Homo sapiens: one gene and its partners. The protein of the gene in region 2 interacts with the protein of the main gene of each other region in a pairwise test. Each region holds a gene or a part of one and is shown on either strand. Other genes may lie near its edges. The genes, in order: FKBP7, ADIPOQ, MUC1, MRM1, KEL, SLC35H1 and SIGLEC12.

Region 1 (3,500 bases), on a different chromosome or scaffold from region 2:
AATCTGTTCTGTTGCCCAGGCTGTAGTGCAGTGTCGCGATCTTGGCTCACTGCAACCTCCACCTCCCGAGTTCAAGTGATTCTTGTGTTTCAGCCTCCCAAGTAGCTGGGATTACAGGCACAAGCCACCACACCCAGCTATTTTTTGTATTTTTAGTAGATACGGGGTTTCACTATGTTGGCCAGGCTGGTCTTGAACTCCTAGCCTCAGGTGAGCCACCCACCTCGGCCTCCCAAAGTGCTAGGATTACAGCTATACGCCACTGTGCCCAGCCCAAAACTTGAATTTCTTAAGAAAAAATATTGTAGGTACATATGCAGTTTTTGAACAATTTTGCTATAAACATAGAAAATATTGGCCGGGCGCAGTGGCTTATACCACTTTTTTTTTTTAGACAAGAATCTTCCTCTGTCACCCAGGCTAGAGTGCAATGGCGCGATCTCGGCTCACTGTAACCTCTGCCTCCCAGGTTCAAGCAATTCTTATTTGGCTTATACCACTGCGCCTGGCCAGGAGGGCGAGATCAGCCTGGCTGGCCAGGAGTTCGAGACCAGCCTGGCCAACATGGCGAAACCCCATCTCTACTAAAAATACAAAAATTAGCCAGGCATGGTGGCGTGTGCCTGTAATCCCAGCTCCTCGGAGGCTGAGGCAGGAGAATAGCTTGAACCCGGGAGGCAGAGGCTGCAGTGAGCCAAGATCAATCACACCACTGCGCTCCAATCTGGGTGACAGAGCAAGACTCCATCTCAAAAAAAAAAAAAAAAAAAAGGATATATTGCCAATTACCTCTTTTTCTTGTTTTTTTTTTTTTTTTAAAAAAAACTAAAGTATAAAAATGAGGAAAATATGCATTTGCTACGGAATTACTTATATTTAGAGAAGCAGATCAAAGAAGTAGGAATTAAGGTAAAGAATATATACATACCGCATGTATTGTTATTTAAGCACTAACAAGTCACATGCATTTCAAGACATGCAGGGTTGTTCTGTGACATGAGACAAGGATATTTTGCAGAAGAAAGACTTCTTCAAGTACTACCTAAAATAAAGTTATAGCTAATGTTAGGTCTTAATAACAACTTACTTTTAAATGCTTATTTAATCAAGAGGTTGTTTGTTAAACAGTTACTTAAGGTCTACACTGCAACTTTTAAAATAATGTAATCCAAGGTATTGGATTACAATGCCTAATGTAACGCAGGCAAGGTCAGTATTAACTATGGTCCAATTAACACTTTTTTTGGGCCTCAGTTTCTTACTCTGTAAAATGAGGGTGCTGGTGGTATTACTAGTGAGATTAATCACTTTAATGTTTGTTAGAGATACCTCCAATTGAATATGAACTTGTTTCACATCAAACTTCTATATCTCTGCAGCAAGTTTCTGATTTATTAAGAGCTTAGGCAGCCTGGGTAGTCATTCATATCTAAGCATAAATTAGTTTATGAAAAAGATAAGCTAAGTGGTCCTTTGCCTGATGGCGGTGAACCCTGGATGAGCACCTGATGATGACAGATGTGTGTGCTCTAGGCAGATAGGAGAGTGGGTGCTCTAGTGGTAGGCAGAATGTGGAGGCATCTGAAGACACAACGCAAGACAGAAAGGAAAACTTTGAAAATGAGAAAGAGACTGAAAGGCAAACTCTGCCTCCAACATTTTGCCTAGAAGTGGCCTCAACTTTTGACAACATTTTTAGCACAAGTATTGCATTTGACTTAATTTATTTTCAATTTTCCTTCTCTTTCTCCTAGGTTCCTATACAAATAAAAACAGGATATATGAATTATGGTACCATGGGAGCTGTTCTGATGGGATCAAATTATTGGCAAAAAGCATTAAAAATAAAGCTGAAGTTATCTGGAAATTGTCTCTTTAGGAGTTTTAAGCCTGACTGGGTCTGACTCAAAGCACTGACACCCCCCCACCACCCGCCAATCCAGTGTGGGGCACTGATGCCCCGATTTTGCTGGAAAGAACTCTTAATGACTAAGACAACTGCCTCAAAGAAGGCATGCCACTTCCATGAAATATTTGGGAGCAATGCCAATATCTCATTGTGGAAAATTAATCTTTACTATTTCAAACCGGTGGAGTCAGCAGTGGCTCTAAATAGGGTAAGGAGGCAAAGATTCTTTCTGTATAGCCTTCAAGCAGCAACACGGAGCAAGAACCTAACTAAGGATGCAAGGTACAGCCTATCAGGCTGCCCATCCTCCTGCCTGCTTTAAAAATTTTCTTCTCTGTTCTGCTACATGCAATTTTTGTAATTTAAAATTTTAATTTTGGAAAAATTAATACATGCCTTATAAAACTTTCAAATGGTACAAAATGTTAGAGTGAAAAGAAATCTTCTCATCCTTGACCCTGAGGCCTCCTTCCCAGGAACACTTAATGTCATCAGATGACTGCATATTCTTCCAGATGTATTCTGTGTAGATACATGCATATGTGAAACTCCTCCTCTGAAATGAAAGCTCATAGAGGATTGGGAGTAGTGTCTACTTTGGTCACTGCTTTATGCCCAGTGCCTAGAACAAAGCCTGGCACTGATGCTCAATATATATCCCAAAAGTGGAATATAGTCTTGTCCACTTTTTTTTTTGAGCCAGGGTCTTGCTGTGTTGCCCAGATTGGAGTGCAGTGGCACAATCACAGCTCACCGCAGCCTCGACCTCCCAGGCTCCAGGGATCCTCCCATCTCAGCCCCCTGAGTAGTTGGGACCACAGGCGGATACCGCCACGCCTGGCTAACTTTTTAATTTTCTGTAGAGATTGTGTCTCCCTACATTGCCCAGGCTGCTTTCAGACTCCTGGGCTCAAGTGATCCTCCCACCTTAGCCTCTCAAAGTGCTGGGATTATAGGCATGAAGCCACCATGCCTGGCCTCCACTTTATTTTTAACATATTAATAAGTATAGCTCTACTTCATTCTTTTTACTGGTTACACAGTAATTCATTGTATAGATATACTATAATTTATTTAACTAATTTCCTATTGATGGATAGGCAGGTGGTTTCCAACCTTTTGCCACCCTCCCACCCAAAAATGCCTGCAGTGAATGTTCTTTTACATATACCTTTGTGCACATTCCTGGAAATGGAACTATTGGATAAGAAGGCACGTGCATTTTCACTTTTTTTTTTGAGATGGAGTCTCGCTCTGTTGCCCAGGCTGGAGTGCAGTGGCGCAATCTTGGCTCACTGCAACCTCTGCCTCCCAGGTTCGAGCGATTCTCCTGCCTCAGCCTCCCAAGTAGCTGGGATTACAGGCACACTCTACCACACCCAGCTAATTTTTGTATTTTTAGTGGAGACGGGGTTTCACCATATTGGCCAGACTGGTCTCGAACTCCTGACCTGAAGTGATCTGCCCACTTCAGCCTCCCAAAGTGCTGGAATTACAGGCATGAGCCACCACACCCGGGCCTGCATTTTCACTTTTGATAACAGTTGATAGAGAAGTTGAATGATTTCCATTCCCAGCAATAATGCTGGTT
Region 2 (3,127 bases):
TTCTTGGCAAGTCGACTCTTGGAGCTTTCCCTGTGCTTGGTCCTGTGCTCAGACATGGGAAAATTAGAGGAGTGTCATCTGTGCAATCACTGAATTCATAATCTTGGTGAGGAAAGGAGACTACACACAGGGAATAATGCTAAGTATTACAGATTTCAGGGCAGAAAGAGATCAAGGTGGGCTGCAATATTCAGAAAAGTCTTCCTGGAAAAGTTGAATACTTAGAAAGCAGCTCCTAGAAGTAGACTCTGCTGAGATGGACGGAGTCCTTTGTAGGTCCCAACTGGGTGTGTGTGTGGGGTCTGTCTCTCCATGGCTGACAGTGCACATGTGGATTCCAGGGCTCAGGATGCTGTTGCTGGGAGCTGTTCTACTGCTATTAGCTCTGCCCGGTCATGACCAGGAAACCACGACTCAAGGGCCCGGAGTCCTGCTTCCCCTGCCCAAGGGGGCCTGCACAGGTTGGATGGCGGGCATCCCAGGGCATCCGGGCCATAATGGGGCCCCAGGCCGTGATGGCAGAGATGGCACCCCTGGTGAGAAGGGTGAGAAAGGAGATCCAGGTAAGAATGTTTCTGGCCTCTTTCATCACAGACCTCCTACACTGATATAAACTATATGAAGGCATTCATTATTAACTAAGGCCTAGACACAGGGAGAAAGCAAAGCTTTTTTATGTTAACCATAAGCAACCTGAAGTGATTTGGGGTTGGTCTTCCAAGGATGAGTGTAGATGGTGCCTCTATAACCAAGACTTTGGCTTTGCTGCATCTGCAGCTCCTTTTCCATCCCCTTTCCCATCTTCACCCTCATCCCTATTCCCAGTACATTCATATTCTGATTCCTCTTTCTGTCTGCTTAACTTCCATTTCACCCAGTGGCATTCAACCACATTTACTGCACACCCCCTGAAAGGCTCAGTCCTGCCTTTGGGGAACTCTTGATCTAGGTAAGATGTCTAATGTGCAAGGCTCTGTTGGTGGTTACTACAAGAAAGTCTACTCTAAAAATGTCAAACTGAATGTGAACAAGTATTCAAAGTATGGAGCATAGAGAAAATATACTCACCGTGGACCTGATGAAGAATGAAGGCTTCAAGGAGGAGGCAGAGCTTCAGCTAGGCCTTGAATGATGGGTAGGCAGAATAGAGGAGGAGAGACATCCTAGATGGAGGGGGTAGAATTGCAAAACCAGGGTTGATGGTGCCAGCACATAAAGGGCTGGCAGGGTGGAGGGTCTATGATAGAGACCTATAGGAGATAAAGATAGAGTTGAAATTATGGGAGCCTCCATGTCTGTGGGAGATATAGAAGGAGGAGGTAACACCTCTCTCCTTTTGGGAGCTCTTATTGGTTTCTTGATCTATAAGTCAAGAAGGTTGTGAGTGGGAGCCACAGGGATGGTAATTTAGGCTGTAACCAACCTAGGCAGGAGTTCTGTTCTTTGTAGTCACTGAGGTCTTCTCATTCCTTAGGTCTTATTGGTCCTAAGGGAGACATCGGTGAAACCGGAGTACCCGGGGCTGAAGGTCCCCGAGGCTTTCCGGGAATCCAAGGCAGGAAAGGAGAACCTGGAGAAGGTGCCTATGTATACCGCTCAGCATTCAGTGTGGGATTGGAGACTTACGTTACTATCCCCAACATGCCCATTCGCTTTACCAAGATCTTCTACAATCAGCAAAACCACTATGATGGCTCCACTGGTAAATTCCACTGCAACATTCCTGGGCTGTACTACTTTGCCTACCACATCACAGTCTATATGAAGGATGTGAAGGTCAGCCTCTTCAAGAAGGACAAGGCTATGCTCTTCACCTATGATCAGTACCAGGAAAATAATGTGGACCAGGCCTCCGGCTCTGTGCTCCTGCATCTGGAGGTGGGCGACCAAGTCTGGCTCCAGGTGTATGGGGAAGGAGAGCGTAATGGACTCTATGCTGATAATGACAATGACTCCACCTTCACAGGCTTTCTTCTCTACCATGACACCAACTGATCACCACTAACTCAGAGCCTCCTCCAGGCCAAACAGCCCCAAAGTCAATTAAAGGCTTTCAGTACGGTTAGGAAGTTGATTATTATTTAGTTGGAGGCCTTTAGATATTATTCATTCATTTACTCATTCATTTATTCATTCATTCATCGAGTAACTTTAAAAAAATCATATGCTATGTTCCCAGTCCTGGGGAGCTTCACAAACATGACCAGATAACTGACTAGAAAGAAGTAGTTGACAGTGCTATTTTGTGCCCACTGTCTCTCCTGATGCTCATATCAATCCTATAAGGCACAGGGAACAAGCATTCTCCTGTTTTTACAGATTGTATCCTGAGGCTGAGAGAGTTAAGTGAATGTCTAAGGTCACACAGTATTAAGTGACAGTGCTAGAAATCAAACCCAGAGCTGTGGACTTTGTTCACTAGACTGTGCCCTTTTATAGAGGTACATGTTCTCTTTGGAGTGTTGGTAGGTGTCTGTTTCCCACCTCACCTGAGAGCCATTGAATTTGCCTTCCTCATGAATTAAAACCTCCCCCAAGCAGAGCTTCCTCAGAGAAAGTGGTTCTATGATGACGTCCTGTCTTGGAAGGACTACTACTCAATGGCCCCTGCACTACTCTACTTCCTCTTACCTATGTCCCTTCTCATGCCTTTCCCTCCAACGGGGAAAGCCAACTCCATCTCTAAGTGCCGAACTCATCCCTGTTCCTCAAGGCCACCTGGCCAGGAGCTTCTCTGATGTGATATCCACTTTTTTTTTTTTTGAGATGGAGTCTCACTCTGTCACCCAGGCTGGAGTACAGTGACACGACCTCGGCTCACTGCAGCCTCCTTCTCCTGGGTCCAAGCAATTATTGTGCCTCAGCCTCCCGAGTAGCTGAGACTTCAGGTGCATTCCACCACACATGGCTAATTTTTGTATTTTTAGTAGAAATGGGGTTTCGTCATGTTGGCCAGGCTGGTCTCGAACTCCTGGCCTAGGTGATCCACCCGCCTCGACCTCCCAAAGTGCTGGGATTACAGGCATGAGCCACCATGCCCAGTCGATATCTCACTTTTTATTTTGCCATGGATGAGAGTCCTGGGTGTGAGGAACACCTCCCACCAGGCTAGAGGCAACTGCCCAGG
Region 3 (2,296 bases), on a different chromosome or scaffold from region 2:
CGGCCCCGGACACAAGGCCCGCCCCGGGCTACACCGCGCCCGCAGCCCACGGTGTCACCTCGGCCCCGGACACCAGGCCGGCCCCGGGCTCCACCGCCCCCCAAGCCCACGGTGTCACCTCGGCCCCGGACACCAGGCCGGCCCCGGGCTCCACCGCCCCCCCAGCCCACGGTGTCACCTCGGCCCCGGACACCAGGCCGGCCCCGGGCTCCACCGCCCCCCCAGCCCACGGTGTCACCTCGGCCCCGGACACCAGGCCGGCCCCGGGCTCCACCGCCCCCCCAGCCCACGGTGTCACCTCGGCCCCGGAGAGCAGGCCGGCCCCGGGCTCCACCGCGAGAGCAGCCCACGGTGTCACCTCGGCCCCGGAGAGCAGGCCGGCCCCGGGCTCCACCGCCCCCCCAGCCCACGGTGTCACCTCGGCCCCGGACACCAGGCCGGCCCCGGGCTCCACCGCCCCCCCAGCCCACGGTGTCACCTCGGCCCCGGACACCAGGCCGGCCCCGGGCTCCACCGCCCCCCCAGCCCACGGTGTCACCTCGGCCCCGGACACCAGGCCGGCCCCGGGCTCCACCGCCCCCCCAGCCCACGGTGTCACCTCGGCCCCGGACACCAGGCCGGCCCCGGGCTCCACCGCCCCCCCAGCCCACGGTGTCACCTCGGCCCCGGACACCAGGCCGTCCCCGGGCTCCACCGCGCCCGCAGCCCACGGTGTATATTTAAAACAGAGAGCAGGCCGGCCCCGGGCTCCACCGCGCCCGCAGCCCAGCTCACAGTGTCACCTCGGCCCCGGACACCAGGCCGGCCTCGGGCTCCACCGACACTCCAGCACACGGTGTCACCTCGGCCCCGGACAACAGACCGGCTCCGGGCTCCACCGCCCCCCCAGCCCACGGTGTCACCTCGGCACCGGACACCAGGCCGGCCCCCGGGCTCCACCGCCCCCCCAGCCCACGGTGTCACCTCGGCCCCGGACACCAGGCCGGCCCCGGGCTCCACCGCCCCCCCAGTCCACGGTGTCACCTCGGCCCCGGACACCAGGCCGGCACCGGGCTCCACCGCCCCCCCAGCCCACGGTGTCACCTCGGCCCCGGACACCAGGCCGGCCCCGGGCTCCACCGCCCCCCCAGCCCACGGTGTCACCTCGGCCCCGGACACCAGGCCGGCCCCGGGCTCCACCGCACCCCCAGCCCACGGTGTCACCTCGGCCCCGGACACCAGGCGGGCCCCGGGCTCCACCCCGGCCCCGGGCTCCACCGCCCCCCCAGCCCACGGTGTCACCTCGGCCCCGGACACCAGGCCGGCCCCGGGCTCCACCGCCCCCCCAGCCCATGGTGTCACCTCGGCCCCGGACAACAGGCCCGCCTTGGGCTCCACCGCCCCTCCAGTCCACAATGTCACCTCGGCCTCAGGCTCTGCATCAGGCTCAGCTTCTACTCTGGTGCACAACGGCACCTCTGCCAGGGCTACCACAACCCCAGCCAGCAAGAGCACTCCATTCTCAATTCCCAGCCACCACTCTGATACTCCTACCACCCTTGCCAGCCATAGCACCAAGACTGATGCCAGTAGCACTCACCATAGCACGGTACCTCCTCTCACCTCCTCCAATCACAGCACTTCTCCCCAGTTGTCTACTGGGGTCTCTTTCTTTTTCCTGTCTTTTCACATTTCAAACCTCCAGTTTAATTCCTCTCTGGAAGATCCCAGCACCGACTACTACCAAGAGCTGCAGAGAGACATTTCTGAAATGGTGAGTATCGGCCTTTCCTTCCCCATGCTCCCCTGAAGCAGCCATCAGAACTGTCCACACCCTTTGCATCAAGCCTGAGTCCTTTCCCTCTCACCCCAGTTTTTGCAGATTTATAAACAAGGGGGTTTTCTGGGCCTCTCCAATATTAAGTTCAGGTACAGTTCTGGGTGTGGACCCAGTGTGGTGGTTGGAGGGTGGGTGGTGGTCATGACCGTAGGGAGGGACTGGTGCACTTAAGGTTGGGGGAAGAGTGCTGAGCCAGAGCTGGGACCCGTGGCTGAAGTGCCCATTTCCCTGTGACCAGGCCAGGATCTGTGGTGGTACAATTGACTCTGGCCTTCCGAGAAGGTACCATCAATGTCCACGACGTGGAGACACAGTTCAATCAGTATAAAACGGAAGCAGCCTCTCGATATAACCTGACGATCTCAGACGTCAGCGGTGAGGCTACTTCCCTGGCTGCAGCCCAGCACCATGCCGGGGCCCCTCTCCTTCCAGTGTCTGGGTCCCCGCTCTTTCCTTAGTGCTGGCAGCGGGAGGGGC
Region 4 (2,441 bases), on a different chromosome or scaffold from region 2:
CCTGCCTCAGCCTCCTGAGTAGCTGGGATTACAGGCATGCACCACCATGCCCGGCTAATTTTGTATTTTTAGTAGAGACGGGGTTTCTCCATGTTGTTCAGACTGGTCTCGAACTCCCAACCTCAGGTGATCCCCCTGCCTTGGCCTCCCAAAGTGCTGGGGATTACAGGCGTGAGCCACCGTGCCTGGGCCAGGCTAGTTTTGAACTCCTGACCTCAGGTAATCTGCCTGCTTCAGCCTCCCAAAGTGCTGGAATTACAGGCTTGAGCCACTGCATACAGCCTCTGATGAAGATTTGATGAATTAGAATAGGAGAGGCAGGCATGGTGGCTGACGCTTGTAATCCTAGCACTCTGGGAGGCCAAGGTGGGAGGATCGCTTGAAGCCAGGAGTTCCAGACCAACCAGGGCAACATGGCAAAACCTCATCTCAAAAAAAAAAATGCAAAAACTAGCCGGGTGGGGTGGCGAGTGCCTGTAGTCCCAGCTACTTGGGAGGCTGAGGTGGGAGGATCACCAGAACCCAGGCGGTTGAGGCTGCGGTGAGCTGTGATCGTGCCACTGCACTCCAGCCTGAGCGAGAGTAAGACCCTATCTCAAAATTAAAATAAAAAAAGAATTAGAACATATCTTCTTCCCCCTTTCAGACCAAAGCCCAGCAGGGCTGGCTCGTGGCCGGCACGGTGGGCTGCCCAAGCACAGAGGATCCCCAGTCCTCCGAGATCCCCATCATGAGTTGCTTGGAGTTCCTCTGGGAACGGCCTACTCTCCTTGTGCTGGGTAGGTGGATGTCCCTGCGTTTGTGCCCAGATTACATTTCCCGAGCAACTGGGTGTCCAGCTGGGCAACCCTAACCCTCAGCCCCACGCCCTGCAGGGAATGAGGGCTCAGGTCTATCCCAGGAGGTGCAGGCCTCCTGCCAGCTTCTCCTCACCATCCTGCCCCGGCGCCAGCTGCCTCCTGGACTTGAGTCCTTGAACGTCTCTGTGGCTGCAGGTGAGTCTACTCCCCTTTCCCTTTCCTCTATCCCTCTAATCACGCAGGTGGGATTTGATGCCCTCTAATCCCATTTGCTGGCTGTTTGTGTGCCTCAGTTGCTTTATGTACAAAATGGGGAAATTACATCCCGTTGATGAGATGAGGGGCTGCCTGAATGTCTAGGTCTCTAAACATCATCCTTCTCCTCCGTCCTCTCTTCCCTTGTCCTTGTGTCTGTGCAGGAATTCTTCTTCACTCCATTTGCAGCCAGAGGAAGGGTTTCCCCACAGAGGGGGAGAGAAGGCAGCTTCTCCAAGACCCCCAAGAACCCTCAGCCAGGTCTGAAGGGCTCAGCATGGCTCAGCACCCAGGGCTGTCTTCAGGCCCAGAGAAAGAGAGGCAAAATGAGGGCTGACGTGGACTGTCCACAGTGTTCATGTGCTGGAGTCAGGGACGGCCGCACCTGCCTCCGCCGGCTCCAGTGTGCGGGGAGCCTCTGCCTGAGTGTGCACCAGGCCCATGTTTATTGACCACAGTCTGGGGGGGGGGGAAGGGGACTGCGGTGGACACCAGAGGAAGCTGTTTCCTGTTGTGATGTTGGACCTGTAGTAGGACATGGTGATTTGTTAATTTCCATGGGAAGCCATGATGGCCTAGCATGGAGGGAATCTGTTCCCAGGCCCTGCCTGGAAGTTGAGGGAAAGTTTAGACATCTGCAGAGAGGCAGGCAGCCCAGCCCAGGGGACCCGTTCCTCTTGAACCAGTCATTGCCTGTGGCAAATGTGTGTATGAGAATGTGGGGGGTGGAGGGCGGGGCCCTGATGTGGAGTAGACAGTGCGCACCTCAGGCCCACACACGGCCCCGCCCTGGGGCCTTGAGCGCAGGCCTCATCTTTCTGTGCCGCGGGACTCCGCACCTACCTCACAGGGTTGTTGTGAGGCTCAAATAAAACATCACTCAGCACGTGGGAGATTCTGGCCAATTCCTCCGTTAGGTGGCAGCCTCGCTCTTCGGTCCAGTCTTCAGGCAGCTTCCACAGCCTCCTTGCGGGGAGACTCCTGGCTGCAGCCCCATGAGAGGCGACGGGAAATTAGCAAACACCTCCCACCCCACGGGGGCCCCCCACGGGTGACTGAGTCAGTTCCCTTCAAGGGGAGGAACTGGGAGCAGGCTTGCCGTTGATTGTACAACCGAGACAGATTTGGCACTCCTCCCCTCGGGTCCCAGGAAAGCAGCAGGAGCCAGCAGTGTGAGGAGCATAGAAGTGTTTCTGTCCTGGTGGCACATTGGAACCACCTGGCATGCTTTAAAAAACCCAACACTGACACCAGAGAGTCTGACATGATGGGTGTGGCGCCACCTGGCATCCGGCTTTCGAAAGCGCCACCATTGGTCTAATGTGCAGCCAAGGCTGAGAATCACCACTAGGGCAGGTGGACTCAAATTCCACACCCTTGACATTT
Region 5 (2,375 bases), on a different chromosome or scaffold from region 2:
AGTCACACAGTTACCAAAAAGCAGAGACAGGGTTTGAACTCAGGCATTCTGATGCCAGAGCCCAGGCTCTCGATATTGCCTTTCATTTTCCTCCAGGAAAGGATTTACATGAGATGGCAGGTGGCTGGGGAAGCAGTGAGTACACACTCACGTTGTGAAGGCAGGGAGACTTGTGGGGGACTTGCTGGGAAGCTGAAGAGCTCAGGAGGATGAGGAGAGGGAGTGGACGGTTTAAAAAAGACAGTGTGAGAACAAGAGCCCTGAGCCAGAGGAGAAAATGACAGCCCTCTCCTCCCTCTGATTTCTGAGAGGTGTTCCTGCCCCCAGGAGTGAGGACACTGTCTTTCTCCTGTGTCAGGCTATTTCCCCATGGAAAGGAACTATATCTCCCTGATGGCCCTCACGGATGGCCAGGCCCCACCTTCCCTTTGTGGGCTTGGCACTGCCTTCCTTTCTCCACAGATCCTTTAGTTGCTTTAGTTGAGCTGCTCCTCTAGCAGCAGCTCCAGCCCAGGCAGCTCCTTGGGGCCAAGCCCTTTTCCAAGGGTCAGAAGCTGTGGGCAGGGCCAGGCTGAGGCCTCTCCTGATCCTGTCCCCCTGTCCCTGGACCTCACTCCCACAGGCCATGAAATTATTCACTGCGATCCGGGATGCCCTCATCACTCGCCTCAGAAACCTTCCCTGGATGAATGAGGAGACCCAGAACATGGCCCAGGACAAGGTCAGGCCAGGCGTCCTGGCTGGTGTGGGAGCCTGTGCAGGGAATGGAGTATTGGAACAAGCGAGATGGGGATTGGAAGCAAATGCCAAAGGCCCCCCCAGGCACATGCTAAGTAGGGAAGCCACTGGGCTGTATACTCACACTGGCAACAATGTGAGAGGCTGGGACAGGGCAACGAGTGGGAGAAATTTCCTCTGGTAGACTCGGAGAGTATTCCTAGCCTCTTCTGTGTCTCTCTCCAGGTTGCTCAACTGCAGGTGGAGATGGGGGCTTCAGAATGGGCCCTGAAGCCAGAGCTGGCCCGACAAGAATACAACGATGTGGGTCCCTGTGTTTTCCAGCTCCTTTTCAGTCCTTGACTTCTCGTCACTTCTCTGACCCTCCTAAGTCTTTGTTGGACAATCAGTTTTCCCTGGGTGACTTAGCTCTGTCCTTACTCTGGTGCTGGCTGGGGTTGATGGGGAAATATCCACACTGTACGTCTTGCTGGCAGAAGAACAGAATCTTTTCAGGTCCCAACGCATGTGCCAACACACATGCATGCATCCTGTGACTTGTCTGGGCGTGTTCATCTGTGTGCTGATATGTGTAAAGCCTGGGTGTGCTGTGTAGTGATGCCATTGGGCTGCTCTCTCCTAATCCCTGGATGCCTGCCTGTCAGGGCTTGCCTGTTTGGGGTCAAATGGTCCCATTGGTGTTTGTCAGCGTGCATCTATAGAAGTCTCTGTGTGCCCAAGTCACCTCCTGCCTCTTCCCCAGATACAGCTTGGATCGAGCTTCCTGCAGTCTGTCCTGAGCTGTGTCCGGTCCCTCCGAGCTAGAATTGTCCAGAGCTTCTTGCAGCCTCACCCCCAACACAGGTATGACAGCAGGGGAGACACAGGCACTCCATCCCAGAGAGACCCATCCATGATTCACAGGAAAGGAAGCCAGGGCTCAGGGCAGGCAGCATGAACAGTAATGGTAGTTGGGAGGGACTGTGTAGGTCTCAGGGTGGCAGGGCAATACGTGGTGGGGGCTGGAGTTCACATGTCCTCTTCCCACAGGTGGAAGGTGTCCCCTTGGGACGTCAATGCTTACTATTCGGTATCTGACCATGTGGTAGTCTTTCCAGCTGGACTCCTCCAACCCCCATTCTTCCACCCTGGCTATCCCAGGTATGGGTCACTCTGTAAGGGTAGGTAGGGAGTTTCCCAAGAGGGGCCGACAGGTGTTATGATGGATGGGACTTACGGTTGGAGAATTGGGGTCACAAATGCTGAGAGATTCTGGGGGTCAAATAAGCCCTTGTCTCCCTAGAGCCGTGAACTTTGGCGCTGCTGGCAGCATCATGGCCCACGAGCTGTTGCACATCTTCTACCAGCTCTGTGGGTAACAGGGGCCACTGGGAGGTGGGATAATAGGGAACCTAAGGGAAGACCACAAGGGAGGCCTGGAGGGGAAAGGGAGGTTATTTGAGGGTTTGAGGTGGGGCAGTCCTGGGAACTTTGCCATGCTCCTGGGAGCTGATTCAGTCTGTGGTACCACCCACATCCTCACCTAGGCAGCACCAACCCTATGTTCTCTTGCTGTATGTTCTCTTGTCCCATTTTCAACAGTACTGCCTGGGGGCTGCCTCGCCTGTGACAACCATGCCCTCCAGGAAGCTCACCTG
Region 6 (3,500 bases), on a different chromosome or scaffold from region 2:
GATACCGTAACTAAGGGCCCTACACACATAGCAAGGTCCTCATGAACCACCGAATGAGCCCCACTCCAGCAGAGGGGCGAAGAGGAAGAGGGAGCCGGTGGGGGGCAGGCTGTCTAAACCAAGCCGGGGTGTCTGCTTTGGGCTCCATACAGAGCTTCCATTTCCCCCTCTTCATGACGATGCTGCACCTGGCCGTGATCTTCCTCTTCTCCGCCCTGTCCAGGGCGCTGGTTCAGTGCTCCAGCCACAGGGCCCGTGTGGTGCTGAGCTGGGCCGACTACCTCAGAAGAGTGGCTCCCACAGGTAGGTGGGGGACCTCAGTGAGGGCAGAGCAGGAAGAGGGGCTGGGGAACCATAGGATGAGAACAAGAGAGACACCCGCATGTCTGGAAGCCAAGTCCCTCCCCTCTTCCTGCACTGTTCCTCCTCTGCCCTCTTGACCTGGCCTCCCACCACCCACGCTGCTGCCTCTTGTGCACTGCGTGCCTTCCCACTGCCCCACCACACACCCACAAAACCCCCCCTGCACCTGCGGCCCCGCAGCTCCCTCTCCTGCCAGCAGACACCGAGCCTGGAGTGCAGCCCTCAGGCCTGGAGATAAGTGGTGAGCAGGCAGGGTCCCTGCCCTCGCAGGGCTGTGACACGGACATGGAGGGCACTACGGAGCCCAGGGAGGGGACCAACCCAAGGCCGGGGCCCATGGCTGGTAGAGGAAGATTTCCTAGGCCAGGTGCCAAGTAGGCAGAGCCCTGAAGGATGCGTGGGACTGGTTGGCCCTGGGAGGAGGGGCCCTCGTGGCCCGAGGGAGATTTAGTGCCAGCTGTGGGGTCTGGAAGGGAACTCAAAGTGTTTCAGGATACTGAGAACCCGGTGCTGGCCAGAGGAAGTGGGAAAAATGAGAACTGAGAGGGTGGGCAGGGGTCATGTCCTGGAGGCCGGATTCCCCGTGGAGGAGTTTGTGTTCCATCCTGAGGGAAAAGGGTTTCCAGTAAGGGATCAACCAGATCAGGTTAATACCTCCGCTCAGGGGGCTCGCCGGAGTGTTTGTGGAAACCATACCGGCCCAGCCAGTTGGAATGGGCCCCAGCCCTAATGCTAGAGCAGCCCCCGACCTTTGGGGGCCAGATATTAACCCTTTAGTTGCTGGTGGAAAAGAAGGCCCAAGGGCCCCACAGGAGGCACCGGGATGGTTCAGAAGTGGGGGACACTCAGGTGCCTCAGGGTACCAGCCCACCCCAGCAGAGTGTGGACCTCCCAAGCTGTCCTGTGGGTGCCTGTGTCTTCACAGCTCTGGCGACGGCGCTTGACGTGGGCTTGTCCAACTGGAGCTTCCTGTATGTCACCGTCTCGCTGTGAGTACTGGCCATGCCCTGCTGCCTCCCTTCAGGCTGAAGCTGTCTGTCTGTCCAGCGGGGTGTCTGCACACCCGGCTGCTAGGCCAGCCACTCCACCACTCTGGGACCAGCCCTTGCTCTCTCAGCCTCTCCCTGGCACCCAGCAGCTCTCCGGGAAGTCGCCAGCCTCTTCCGTAAGCCCAGCGCAGAGGAGATGCTGTGCCCACCTGCCAGGCAGCGTGGGGAAGCCAGGGAGCTCTCCCAGAACCCCATCATCAGAGCAGGGGAAGGCAGGCTGCAAGGCCACAGACAGGTGGCCACTGGTGGGTGGTACACGCAGCCGCAGCAGAGCCCTATGTGGCCTGGGGGCTACACAAGAGTTTCTTCTTCCCTCTGATGTTTTGCTTCAGAGAGCACTGTTCCTGCCTTCTTGTCCTCCTACTTCTCATCCTTCCTTCCCGCTCCTGGGCTCTGCCGAGGGTTAGGTAAAGAACAGGACTCAGGGAGCTCAACGTCAGACCTGTAACCTCTTCTCTCTGGTGATAACCAGAGGCCTCTTAGTCAGAGATTCCTTCTGATTAAAGGTCGCTTATCACTCAGATGACAGCCCAGCTCTGTTTGGTCATTTCGCTCAGTGATTTGTGCTCCTGCTCCTTTCTCGGTGATGGGTCTGAGCCCTGAGCTCCAGCAGTGCATTGTGGGTAATTTTGCTTCCAGGTACACAATGACCAAATCCTCAGCTGTCCTCTTCATCTTGATCTTCTCTCTGATCTTCAAGCTGGAGGAGCTGGTGAGGCCCCAGCGTCTCTTGTGTCCTTCCTGCCCCCACAGATGCTAAGAATAAAGTGGGAGTCTGAGCAGTGGCTTGTCCTGCTGTGTGACAGAGGAGACAAGCCCAGTCCAGGTGGCAGTAGATCCCTTTCTGAGAAGGGACCTAGACATGGGCAATACTCAGAATATTTAGAAACCAGTGTGGCAGGGTAATGACCAAAGGTGAAAGCACTGCAGGATGAGGGTCCCAGCAGAGCTGGGTCTAGGAAGCACCCTGCTGTGGGAGGCAGTAGCCCTGTGTGTTAGGCCCAGGGAGGAGGTGGGACCACTTGGGGGCCTAGGACAGCCGTCAGTGTGGCAGAGCAAGCAGGGCTGTTGGCATACCAGCTGACCGTCAGCCCTACATGCTGACATTGGTGGGCAAGGACTGTCCAGGACCCCCTGGGATGGAGCTGAAGGGTGGAAGGATTTCTTGCCCCAGGGGCAGCCAAGATGGCTGCTGACCCCAGGCTCCAAATGTGATGAACCCTTGACCCTCAAGACCCCCGAGTTAGCTGCCACTGCTCCCCATCCTACCAGCGCGCGGCACTGGTCCTGGTGGTCCTCCTCATCGCCGGGGGTCTCTTCATGTTCACCTACAAGTCCACACAGTTCAACGTGGAGGGCTTCGCCTTGGTGCTGGGGGCCTCGTTCATCGGTGGCATTCGCTGGACCCTCACCCAGATGCTCCTGCAGAAGGCTGAACTCGGTGAGCACGTGCCACTCATCCTCCAGAGAGAGGAACCCCGGCACAGGCAGGGCGGAGGCAGGGCAGGGCCGGACCAGACCTGATGGTGCCTGTCCCCCGCCCTGCAGGCCTCCAGAATCCCATCGACACCATGTTCCACCTGCAGCCACTCATGTTCCTGGGGCTCTTCCCTCTCTTTGCTGTATTTGAAGGTACGTTGGGCCTTCCCTCTCAAGGGCACCTCAGTGCAGCAGACCACAGATCCTCGCCCTGAGCCCAACACAGTGGTAGCTGCAGAGATTATTGAGATCAAAGATGCAGTCCCTCCCCTGGAAGCGCATGGTTTGGGGTCCAGCATGATAAACGCTACAGAGAAAGCACATATAAAATTCAGGGAACAGTAACAGTAAGTGTGCACAGAGCCCTGAAAGTGCACCAGGGCTGTTCTGATCTTTTTAAACATAGGAACTCATTTCATCCTTCCAAAAACCTGGTGTGGCAGTACTATTATTATCCCCCATTTTGCAGGTAGAACAAAATGAGGCCCAGAGAAGTAAAGATAACTTGCCCAAGGTCCCATAGCTCGTAAATGAGCCAGAATTTGAAGCCAGCAGCCTGGCTCCAAGTGGTCCAGCCCTACTCTTAACCACCCTATCTTGCCTCTAAGG
Region 7 (4,265 bases), on a different chromosome or scaffold from region 2:
GATGGGAAGATCCATGGAGCTGAGTAAAATAAAACAGATTGTGGTTTTTATGTAAAAATAGTCTTTAGAAAAACCTATGCAAAGCCATAGTATTGAAGGCAGTGCACTCAGATGATAAAACTACATAGAAAAGCAAGGAGACCATTATCATTAAAGTGAGGCTGGGGCATCTTCAGGAGGAACTGCATGTGGCCTATAGGAAGGGGAAACACAGGGCTGAATAAATGAATGCAATTTCTTTCTTCATCTCATGGGAGAAATTTGGCAATTATCTTGTGATGTTCTATTTCTTGAACAGTGATAATTTGGTGAAAATCACTGAGTCATTTTTTTAGGTGGCACTTTTATTTACTTGTATTACATTTCCCCAAAAATCATTGTTTCAAGAAAAGCTGACATGGGTCTAAGGAGGGCGAATCTTGCAGGATTTTCCCCACCTTCCTCCCAGTACATAGCATACAGTTTCAAAAACTCTTCTGCTGAATTCAGGTGCATTTCTTCTCCCATGAAATCCTGTCCATCATTGAGCGTGGACACGCCAGGGCTGGTGTCCTCGCTCCACGTCTCCTGTTCACCTGAAACCCTGGGAGCAGAGCCTGCAGGAACAAAGGGCCAGCAGACCCCTCATGCTCTGGAGTAAGGAGGACTTGTGAGAGAGCAGTGGTGAAGGATCCCATCCTGAACCCAGAGAGCCATGGCCGAGAGAGAAACGCCTGCCCCTTTAGAAATCTGTCCCTTCCCATCCAACATTCCTCCCTTCCAGACCTCACTGTACAACAGTCACAGCCTTAGCTTCTCAGGCCTCCTGTGAACTGGGCTCTTCTCTGTGTCTTTGGTGTGTATCAACACACGGAATCCTCACCTCCACGACCCCGTGTCTCTCTGCTCAGTCCTCCCGAGACTGATTCCCCAACATAGGAGAGAGCGACCACACCCTGCCTGGTACCCCCACTGAAGCTCCTGCCATGGAGAGCTCAGATATCAGGAGCCTCAGTGTCTCCCCACTACACAGTGACTCTTTGGGGACAGTGTCTAGCTCTGCTGTGTTGAACTCCACCTCACGGCCGCTGAGGGAGGAAGGAGAGGTTGCCTGCTCATCCCACCTGCACCCCCATCTCTTATATCCTAGTGTCACCTCTGACCTACAGAGAGACATCCACAGCCTGTACTTCATAGGTCTGGCCACATGGGACTCATTTTCACCTTATGGAAAATATCACCCAAGGGGAAGGGCACTGAGAGGGAGGCAGTGGGCGGGGTGGGCCCTGCATGGGGTTGGAATCTGGGTGAGTCTTTCATCCTCTCTGGCCTCAGGGTCCCCAGGAGTGGACGGGGTAGTGGACGGTGGATCTTCCAGGGGTGACCCGGCCCTGACAGTGTCTGTGTGTGAAGTTCCTCCTGTGAGGTCACCGTTCAGAACCCACCCCCAACTTCCTGTGCGGCTTCCTCGAAATCTTGAGTTCTCAGTTCCTGAGAGAAGAACCCTGAGGAACAGACTTACCTCAGCAACCCTGGCACCTCCAACCCGACACATGCTACTGCTGCTGCTACTGCTGCCACCCCTGCTCTGTGGGAGAGTGGGGGCTAAGGAACAGAAGGATTACCTGCTGACAATGCAGAAGTCCGTGACGGTGCAGGAGGGCCTGTGTGTCTCTGTGCTTTGCTCCTTCTCCTACCCCCAAAATGGCTGGACTGCCTCCGATCCAGTTCATGGCTACTGGTTCCGGGCAGGGGACCATGTAAGCCGGAACATTCCAGTGGCCACAAACAACCCAGCTCGAGCAGTGCAGGAGGAGACTCGGGACCGATTCCACCTCCTTGGGGACCCACAGAACAAGGATTGTACCCTGAGCATCAGAGACACCAGAGAGAGTGATGCAGGGACATACGTCTTTTGTGTAGAGAGAGGAAATATGAAATGGAATTATAAATATGACCAGCTCTCTGTGAATGTGACAGGTAAGGCACGGGCTCCAAGAGAGGCCAAAGGCAAATGTGATGAGGGCTTTAGGGCACGGCTGAGACGGGACACATGTCCTGGGAGGGGGCCGGGGGTGATGGACTCAGGGGAGGAGCTGGACCAGAGCCTGAGCTTCCCCAGGACCGCACCTTGGATGCCCCTCCTGATCCTGCAAGCCCCTCCCCTCACCAGCCCTGACCCACAGGCCTGACATCCTCATCCTGCCTCTGACGCTGGCACTGTGGCATGTGGGGCCTTATGACTCCTTGTTTTGGGGCCTGTCCTAGGCATGGCCGGGGTTTAGCACCATCCCAGGCCTCTCCCCACCAGATGCCAGAAGCACCCACCCCACCCATGCAGCGAGACAATTATCTCCACACATTGTCAAACGTCCTGGGGGGTTAAGTCCTCCCCAGTTGAGAGCCTTAGGTCTACACAACCCCGTGACTCTCTCAGGCCAGGCCAGGGAGGAAGCACTTCCTGGCGCAAACCAAGGGCAGCAGAGGCACCTGAGCCTGGACAGGGAGACTCAGCACACGGCCCCTCCATCTCTCATGCCCCGAGGTCCTCGGAGATCCACATTTAGATGCTCAAAAGACAGGAGGGACCTCCACGATGGTCCAGAGGCCGGGAGGGCAGGACCTACGTGTCTGGTGCAGGCCCTGGTGCTTCAGGGAAGCCCGGAGGTAGGAGGCGGGACACGGTCTCTTCTCCTCCCTGGGTGGGTCTCTAGGGTCTCTGAGCTTTAGGGTTTCCTTCACTCTGTGCAGAGGGAATGAGTTCCTATAGCATGTGGGTTTGCAGTTTCTCTTCCATGCAGGGCTGAGGTCTCCAGCTCCTCTCCAGCCCCCTGTGGGTCCCACAGCCCTGCCCCTCCTCTCCCTCCCCCTTCTCTGCTCACACAGGGAGCCCAGGAAGCCTCTGCCTCAGAGATGCTGCTGCCCCTGCTATGGGCAAATGAAGAGAGGGACAGTGGGGGCTGGGCTGACCCTCGTTTCTCCACAGCGTCCCAGGACCTACTGTCAAGATACAGGCTGGAGGTGCCAGAGTCGGTGACTGTGCAGGAGGGTCTGTGTGTCTCTGTGCCCTGCAGTGTCCTTTACCCCCATTACAACTGGACTGCCTCTAGCCCTGTTTATGGATCCTGGTTCAAGGAAGGGGCCGATATACCATGGGATATTCCAGTGGCCACAAACACCCCAAGTGGAAAAGTGCAAGAGGATACCCACGGTCGATTCCTCCTCCTTGGGGACCCACAGACCAACAACTGCTCCCTGAGCATCAGAGATGCCAGGAAGGGGGATTCAGGGAAGTACTACTTCCAGGTGGAGAGAGGAAGCAGGAAATGGAACTACATATATGACAAGCTCTCTGTGCATGTGACAGGTAAATCTCTGGCTCTAGGACCAGCCAGAGGGGAAGGCCCGAGGGCCGCAGGGTAGGGCTGAGGTGGGACCCCCATCCTGGGAGGGAGTTGGAGGTGAAGCATATCTGGCTCAGGGGAGGAGTAAGACCAGAGCCTGAGCCTCCTCAGCACCACACTTCAGACCCCAACACCCTCATTTTGCCTGTCTCCCTTTCATCACCAGCCCTGACTCACATGCCCACCTTCTCCATCCCGGGGACCCTGGAGTCTGGCCACCCCAGGAACCTGACCTGCTCTGTGCCCTGGGCCTGTGAACAGGGGACGCCCCCCACGATCACCTGGATGGGGGCCTCCGTGTCCTCCCTGGACCCCACTATCACTCGCTCCTCGATGCTCAGCCTCATCCCACAGCCCCAGGACCATGGCACCAGCCTCACCTGTCAGGTGACCTTGCCTGGGGCCGGCGTGACCATGACCAGGGCTGTCCGACTCAACATATCCTGTGAGTTCTGGGCCAGGACGTCTGGGTCTTTGATCGGGATTCCTTGAGGCCAGTTGGATGTGGGACCCAGACTCAAGGATCTGGGTCCTGGAATCTTGGCTGGGAGTTGGGGGTCAGGAGGATGCTGGCTCCACCTTCCCCATTTATGGGGCTCCTGGGGAGACAGGGTCAGTGTCCCCAGTCCTCAAAGTGATGGGAACTCCGTGTCTTTCTGTTCCAGATCCTCCTCAGAACTTGACCATGACTGTCTTCCAAGGAGATGGCACAGGTAAGATGGAGTCCTCTCCCTGGGGCTGGAGGAGCAGAGCCTTCAACTCAGGGGAGAGCCAGGACTCACCCTGGTGACCTGAGACCCTTTTGTGGGTGAGCCCCGGCCCCCCCCTCCCTCAGCCTCAGCCTTTTGGCCACCTGAGCACCTTCTCATCACCCCTTCACTC

What was found.
Region 1: the proteins of ADIPOQ (region 2) and FKBP7 interact in binary tests that used the Homo sapiens proteins (3 or more experiments, as listed by UniProt).
Region 3: the proteins of ADIPOQ (region 2) and MUC1 interact in binary tests that used the Homo sapiens proteins (3 or more experiments, as listed by UniProt).
Region 4: the proteins of ADIPOQ (region 2) and MRM1 interact in binary tests that used the Homo sapiens proteins (3 or more experiments, as listed by UniProt).
Region 5: the proteins of ADIPOQ (region 2) and KEL interact in binary tests that used the Homo sapiens proteins (3 or more experiments, as listed by UniProt).
Region 6: the proteins of ADIPOQ (region 2) and SLC35H1 interact in binary tests that used the Homo sapiens proteins (3 or more experiments, as listed by UniProt).
Region 7: the proteins of ADIPOQ (region 2) and SIGLEC12 interact in binary tests that used the Homo sapiens proteins (3 or more experiments, as listed by UniProt).

Annotation. Positions count from the first base shown.
Region 1 is NC_000002.12:178,472,101-178,475,600, forward strand, and holds part of FKBP7 (peptidyl-prolyl cis-trans isomerase FKBP7 isoform a precursor), read right to left. Parts: intron 1,868-3,500; exon of another isoform or gene 1,755-1,867; intron 1,043-1,754; exon of another isoform or gene 929-1,042; intron 1-928. UniProt on the Homo sapiens protein: PPIases accelerate the folding of proteins during protein synthesis.
Region 2 is NC_000003.12:186,852,710-186,855,836, forward strand, and holds part of ADIPOQ (adiponectin precursor), read left to right. Parts: exon of another isoform or gene 1-341; 5' UTR 342-349; coding exon 350-563; intron 564-1,068; exon of another isoform or gene 1,069-1,163; intron 1,164-1,423; exon of another isoform or gene 1,424-1,474; coding exon 1,475-1,995; 3' UTR 1,996-3,127. UniProt on the Homo sapiens protein: Important adipokine involved in the control of fat metabolism and insulin sensitivity, with direct anti-diabetic, anti-atherogenic and anti-inflammatory activities.
Region 3 is NC_000001.11:155,187,620-155,189,915, reverse strand, and holds part of MUC1 (mucin-1 isoform 10 precursor), read left to right. Parts: coding exon of another isoform or gene 1-676; intron 677-981; coding exon of another isoform or gene 982-1,299; coding exon 1,300-1,753; intron 1,754-1,852; coding exon 1,853-1,908; intron 1,909-2,057; coding exon 2,058-2,194; intron 2,195-2,296. UniProt on the Homo sapiens protein: The alpha subunit has cell adhesive properties. Can act both as an adhesion and an anti-adhesion protein. May provide a protective layer on epithelial cells against bacterial and enzyme attack.
Region 4 is NC_000017.11:36,607,024-36,609,464, forward strand, and holds the end of MRM1 (rRNA methyltransferase 1, mitochondrial precursor), read left to right. Parts: intron 1-646; coding exon 647-779; intron 780-875; coding exon 876-995; intron 996-1,219; coding exon 1,220-1,392; 3' UTR 1,393-1,941; downstream 1,942-2,441. UniProt on the Homo sapiens protein: S-adenosyl-L-methionine-dependent 2'-O-ribose methyltransferase that catalyzes the formation of 2'-O-methylguanosine at position 1145 (Gm1145) in the 16S mitochondrial large subunit ribosomal RNA (mtLSU rRNA), a universally conserved modification in the peptidyl transferase domain of the mtLSU rRNA.
Region 5 is NC_000007.14:142,942,989-142,945,363, reverse strand, and holds part of KEL (kell blood group glycoprotein), read left to right. Parts: intron 1-622; coding exon 623-721; intron 722-963; coding exon 964-1,041; intron 1,042-1,480; coding exon 1,481-1,581; intron 1,582-1,767; coding exon 1,768-1,878; intron 1,879-2,020; coding exon 2,021-2,088; intron 2,089-2,319; coding exon 2,320-2,375. UniProt on the Homo sapiens protein: Zinc endopeptidase with endothelin-3-converting enzyme activity. Cleaves EDN1, EDN2 and EDN3, with a marked preference for EDN3.
Region 6 is NC_000020.11:46,354,426-46,357,925, reverse strand, and holds part of SLC35H1 (solute carrier family 35 member C2), read left to right. Parts: intron 1-152; coding exon 153-303; intron 304-1,288; coding exon 1,289-1,352; intron 1,353-2,051; coding exon 2,052-2,124; intron 2,125-2,684; coding exon 2,685-2,853; intron 2,854-2,960; coding exon 2,961-3,044; intron 3,045-3,500.
Region 7 is NC_000019.10:51,499,001-51,503,265, reverse strand, and holds the start of SIGLEC12 (sialic acid-binding Ig-like lectin 12 isoform a precursor), read left to right. Parts: upstream 1-1,465; 5' UTR 1,466-1,532; coding exon 1,533-1,959; intron 1,960-2,872; exon of another isoform or gene 2,873-2,892; coding exon of another isoform or gene 2,893-2,965; coding exon 2,966-3,346; intron 3,347-3,549; coding exon 3,550-3,828; intron 3,829-4,048; coding exon 4,049-4,096; intron 4,097-4,265. UniProt on the Homo sapiens protein: Putative adhesion molecule that mediates sialic-acid dependent binding to cells. The sialic acid recognition site may be masked by cis interactions with sialic acids on the same cell surface.